Regions from separate parts of the Homo sapiens genome. Here region 2 is linked to region 1. The links come from fine-mapping of genetic effects on gene expression. Tissue or cell type: whole blood. Region 1 holds a variant in brackets; the other region holds the start of a gene. All regions are shown on one strand. Distances are between the middles of the regions.

Region 1 (2,921 bases):
TAAGGCAGCAAGACTCCTTGTTAAAAAATAAACTCTAACCTGTGTGCTAGCAAAAAGATGTTCTGGAAGGACAATATTCATGTAGAAAGATGAGATGTTCCCTGAATTTCCCCTTTCTCGTGAGGTTTTCTCATTTTGATTCCTACTGCCATTAAGTTGAAGAGTTCCCTTTTAAAGCTCATCTTTATTAAAATGTTGGTGAGCTCTGTGTAAAGAAGATAGTCCCATTACAAACAGTGGAGCAGTCGACTTTCCAGAGTCCCTCCATTTAGCTTTATGTTCAGTCATAATCAGATCCAACACACCTCTCATGTCAACAACTTTTCCGGTCACCTGGGAGATTTCCATAGTTCCATATTCACTTTCTACCCCTAGATCCTCTGGGTTTATATTCTATAGCCTCTAGCAATAGGCTAGTGCTAACTGGGCCATCAGGACAGGTCCTATAACATGTAATAGAGTATAGCTTCCCTTGAGGGAGAGAAACAAAATACCTCAAACAACATATTCCAAATTTTCAGTTTTGGAAGCTAACTCTACAGATGGGAAAGGAAGCTATTCTAGACAGGTTAACCTTCCTTTCTCACTTTAAGTCCAACTAGTCCAGCTACTCTTCCTCATCTAGAAATTATTTGTAGTTTGATACAAACCTTGAATTATTTTGGATTTTGTTTTAATTTTAAAACTCTTCCATTATAGACTGAAGCAGGAATCACTATATGGTTATTTAAAAGATAAAAAGATTGTCCAAGTGCAGTGGCTCATGCCTGTAATCCTAGCACTTTGGGAAACTAAGGGAGGAGGATCGCTTGAAGACAAGCCTGGGCAACATAGCAAGACCCCAACTCTACAAAAATTAAACATTAAAAAAAAATTAGCTGGGTGTGGTGGCGGTGCTTGTGGTCCCAGCTACTCAAGAGGCTGAGGCAGGAGGATAACTTGAGCCCAATAGTTTGAGGCTGTAGTGAGCTATGATTTTGCCACTGCACTCCAGCCTCGGCAAAAGAGCAAGACCCTACATCAAAAAATAAAAAAAGGTAAAGGTGAGCAAGGCAGAGTGCTAAAGTTTGTCCTATTATTCATGATGCAGAGAAGACACTGACACCCATATTATCTAACTAAAGAGTTATATGTCCATTCCTATTTTTTCCATACACAACACTGATGTATACATGCCCATTCTTCCACACACTGTTTTTTGGGGGGTTTTTTCTTTTTTTTTTTTTTGAGACAGAGTTATTGTTGTCCAAGCTGGAGTGCAATGGCGCAATCTTGGCTTACTGCAATGTCCGCCCTCCCGGATTCAAGTGATTCTCCAGCCTCAGCCTCCCAAGTAGCTCAGATTACAGGCATGTGCCACCACACCCAGCTAATTTTTTGTATTTTTAGTAGAAACGAGGTTTCACCATGTTAGCCAGGCTGGTCTCGAACCCCTGACCTCAGGTGATCCGCCCGCCTCGGCCTCCCAAAGTGCTGAGATTACAA[A/G]TGTGAGCTACCACACCTGGCCCTTCCACATTATGTTTTTACAAACACTAAGGCTCTACTTTCCTTTTTTTAAATACTATATTGGCCAGGCACGGTATTTTGTATTAGTCAATACAAAAGATTTATTTCTTAGTCAATACAAATTTACCATTTACAAAATGGTAAATTCACTGCCACAGAAACAAAATAAATCCTACTACTAAAAATAAGTGATTTAAAGTTATTTACTGGTTTGAATTATCTCCCATCCCTTGCTTCATTAACATAAAAAAGTACAAGTTAACTACATGTTGAAATATAAACCCCTAAAAACTATGCATCTCTAATTTTCTCCAAATACTAATAAAAGTAGGCACAATACTGAATTTCATAAATGGGACTCTAATAATAATAATAATAATTTGAAACTGTAAACTATGTGGCCAGAATAGCATTTCTCAAATAGTCCCATGGAATATCAATGTTTCTGGAGGTATTCCTAAATGTTCCATAAAGAAAAAGAATACAGCTGGGCACAGTGGCTCATGCCTGTAATCCCAGCACTTAGAGAGGCTGAGGCAGGCAGATCGCCTGAGGTCAGGAGTTCCAGATTAGCCTGGCCAACATGGTGAAACCCCATCTCTACTAAAAATATAAAAATTAGCCAGGCGTGGTGGCGGGGGCTTGTAATCCCAGCTACTCGGGAGGCTGAGGCAGGAGAAACACTTGAACCCGGGAGGCAGAGGTTGCAGTGAGCCGAGATTGTGCCATTGCACTCCAGGCTGGACAACGAGACTGAAAGAACAGTACAGTCAAATACGTTTCAAAGCTCTGCGATAAACAAATGTTGTTTAAGAGAGGTCTTCTCAGAATCCTTCATTCTTTTATTTAACAAATAATTTACTGAATACCTACCATATACCAGGCACTAAACTGAGTTTGGGAGTTACAACAGTGAACAAGATGAATAAAATCCCTGCCTTAATGGAACACTCTTTCTAGTTAAGGGGGCAGTAAATAAACAAGGGAGTAATAATTAACTGGAGTCAGTGATGAAGACACTAAAAGAGAATGCATAAAGAGATCAGTGGATACTTCAGACAGGGTGGGCACAATAAGTCACATATGTAATGTCTTCATGTTTTTCTACACTGGGGGATATAGCACATAGTGTTTCGCAAATGTATGTGATTAGGAAACCTTTTGTCAATAAACATGTTTTTAATAGTTCACTGAATCAGTTTTCTACCCAAAACACAGACAACAGCAAGATCAAGATTCAAAGATAGCTCTTCTCTTCCTAAATCCAGTCTTTTTAAAGTTTCCTCACCTGTAAAAGTGGGAATAATAATAGTACATGTCTCAGAATCACAGTGAAGATCCAATTATCTGCTTCATGTAAAACACCCACACAAGGCTTAGTATACACTCTGCTTAATAAATGTTATTGTTACTGT
Region 2 (2,921 bases), 21 kb after region 1:
CTTATTTGATTACATAACTATTGTTAATTTTCTCAGATGTGATAATGGCATCACAGTTATTAGGAGAATGCCCTTATTCTTTTTTTTTAGGGAACTTGTTCTAGGATGAATGTCCTTATTCTTATGAGACACATGTAGAGTATGTGGCAGTAAAATGTCATAACACAAGCAACTTCAAATGTTCTCCATTTAAAAGTATAAATAAAGTAAAAAGGAAGTACAGCAACTGTGCAAAATGGTAATTACTGGATCTAGATGAAAGGTATTGGTCATTACACTCTTTTTATCTGAGTTTTCTGTGTATTCAAAATTTTTCAAAAAAGAAGGGTTAGCAACCATATCAGGCAATTTGAAACCACAACTTAGAGAAAATAGGAAAAGACTTGCTTTTTTTTTTGTTTGTTTGTCTGGTAGCAGCTTCCTGCTGATTTCTTTATAAGAAAACAAATAATACCCCTTGAATCTGAGTGTTTTAGCATTCAAGATCATGGTATAAAAATCTTCAAGAAAGAACAATCACTTGGTAAGGTTTCTGTTTTCACACACAGAGACACAGCCATGATAGTCCAAGCGAATTTCCTAAACAATATTTTGCAGCAAGAGCTCTAATGAGCAGATCTTCAAAAAATTTTAGGATCCTTGACCCCTTGGAGAAACTCATGAAAGCTGTAGTTTCCCCCTAGAAAAGTGTACACCCCAAATTTTGTATACAAATTCAGGTTCCCCAGCTCGTTTCCAAAGCCTTTACAGGGGCCCCAAGTTAAGAACATTTGCCTGCTCTTTTGTGAACAAGCCAATGATAATACTAAAGATGAATAAATTTGTGTAAAATTTAAATATATAAACAATTCCCATTGAAATGACAGCTACTCTTTCACAAGCGTAAACTTCTATTGTAAACTTTCTGCTTTTATTTGAAAGGCAAAAGACTTTTTTTTCAGGACATAAAATCAAATATGAATTACATTCCTCTGGCTGCTGTTATATAGGCAAAAATCTAATTTCCAAAGCAGAACAAAACGTGTTTCTAGGTGCTTTGCTACCTGCGGTGCTGGTACACCGCCTCCGTATCTGGACACGAGTGACGACTCCTGCTCTTTTCTCCTTCCTCGGCCCCGTTAGAAATAAGCCCAGTTCCAATTTCAGAGCCAAATAGCTCCAAAAAGCATTGTGGGTATTGTAGTTTTCTGCACACGGGCACTAAAGGTAGGTTAGGGTGATTTACGGATGCTGCAAAAGAATCCATTGCTTACTACACCGAAGGTCAATGCCTCTTGACACCCTAATCAAGGAAATAAAATAAAGCTGACTGAGATCCGCTCGGAAAATCTTTCTGGATCTAAACTCCCAGTGCGCTTTGCGCCCCAAGTGGCCATCGCGCCTGCGCCCCGCGCGGCCGGTTACTCGCTTACCGGAGGCTTCAGTCCCCGGCGGCGCGGCGACAGCTAGGGTTCACGGCCACTGGGGCAGAGGAGCCGCGAGAAGATGTGGGTTTTTGGTTACGGGTCCCTGATCTGGAAGGTGGATTTCCCCTATCAGGACAAGCTGGTCGGATACATCACCAACTACAGCAGGCGCTTCTGGCAGGGCAGCACGGACCACCGCGGGGTCCCCGGCAAGGTGAGGCGCCGGTCAGCTCCCCACACTTACTGCCCCCTGACCCCTGCTCCCCAACTCCACACACAGCACCCACACCCTAGAGAACCACACCTTAGCGCTTCATGGGGCCAAAGCACATGGCTTGGGGTAACATTTCTGTAGATTTTCCCTGCCACCTGCCCGCCATCTCTAACCCAGCCCGGGCACTCCTTCCGAAGCTGCTTAAGATGCCGGTGGTTAGTCTCTAGAGACGGCGAGAAGCGCGGGCACAGGCGCACGAGCTCGCACCAGGCTGAGTGCGGAGATGGGGACTCCATCTCTCTGCAACCTCTGCCAAAAGAAAAAAAGTCCCATTGGCGGGAAGATGAATGCTCATGTCACCACAGAGTTGAAATAGTAAATCAAGTTGCAAATTCAGCTTTTTAGCAATTAAATTTGTTGGCATTTCTGCATTCTAGCCGACTTTCATGAGCTTGCGATTAAACGTGCATGTTACTTCTAGGATTTCTTTACATCTTTCAAAAGTTTTATTTTCTGACACACAGGATTGCAGAATGAGTTTCCAAAATTTTCGCTGGTTATTAAGGAACTCACTTTGGTTTTCAGTACTAGTGAAGTTAAATGAAGTTCTGGTTATATGAATAACATAGTACCAAACTCATTACTATATCCAGCATTATTTTAATGTTACTTTCTTGATGGTTCTCATAATTATAATATGAAATGTAAGTTCATTGATTCACTTTTCAGTCAGTCCTACAAAGACATTAATCTCAATATATGTATAGAGAATTAGCAGCAGCTCACTGCTTATGCAAATCAGCTTTGTACTGGCTACAAAACAACTAATCCATAAAGAAAACTAAGATTGAGGTAACTAATAATTTGGAAATTGGTCAATGGAAAGTGGAAAAGATCAAGGCGCTAAAGTAGTTTGCACCTGCTCATAAGAGAGACATGGGATTAAAATCACGAAAAGAACCTGAATTAGAAACCATTCTATCTCAACTAGAGTTGGTCAGTTAAGAACTTGGCTTTTAAGTAGACTATACTGGCCTATTGGGATGTTGGACACAGTGACCTGAAAAGGGGCAATGGCTTAGGATAAATGCACATTTACAGATCAACAGAAATGTCATGGCCAAAGTATCTCCAAGAATGTTCTAGAACAATATTCAAGACATTAAAGAACTAAGCTAAATTAAATGGCTTCTGAGTTGTCAGTTTTGGCTGGGCCCGGTAGCTCACGCCTCTGATCCCAACACTTCGGAAGTTTGAGCCAGGAGGACTGCTTGAGGCCAGGAGTTTGAGAGTTGTCAGTT

Evidence for each region.
Region 2: CHAC2 starts here. The variant in region 1 is fine-mapped to the expression of CHAC2 in whole blood (INTERVAL, PIP 0.97).

What each region holds. Positions count from the first base shown.
Region 1 is chr2:53,745,273-53,748,193 of GRCh38, forward strand. All of the region lies in intron 3 of ASB3 (ankyrin repeat and SOCS box containing 3), which reads right to left. The region is part of intron 3 of GPR75-ASB3 (GPR75-ASB3 readthrough); the gene reads right to left. Among named protein-coding and RNA genes, the nearest start is that of CHAC2, 21 kb to the right of the region's middle. The variant A/G (reference allele first, on the strand shown) is at 1,486.
Region 2 is chr2:53,766,402-53,769,322 of GRCh38, forward strand. It overlaps CHAC2 (ChaC glutathione specific gamma-glutamylcyclotransferase 2), which reads left to right and starts at 1,403. Exons shown (of 3, transcript NM_001008708.4): 1 at 1,403-1,620. The coding sequence starts at 1,486. All of the region lies in intron 1 of ASB3 (ankyrin repeat and SOCS box containing 3), which reads right to left. All of the region lies in intron 1 of GPR75-ASB3 (GPR75-ASB3 readthrough), which reads right to left. RefSeq lists enhancers at 1,375-1,724, 1,745-1,934.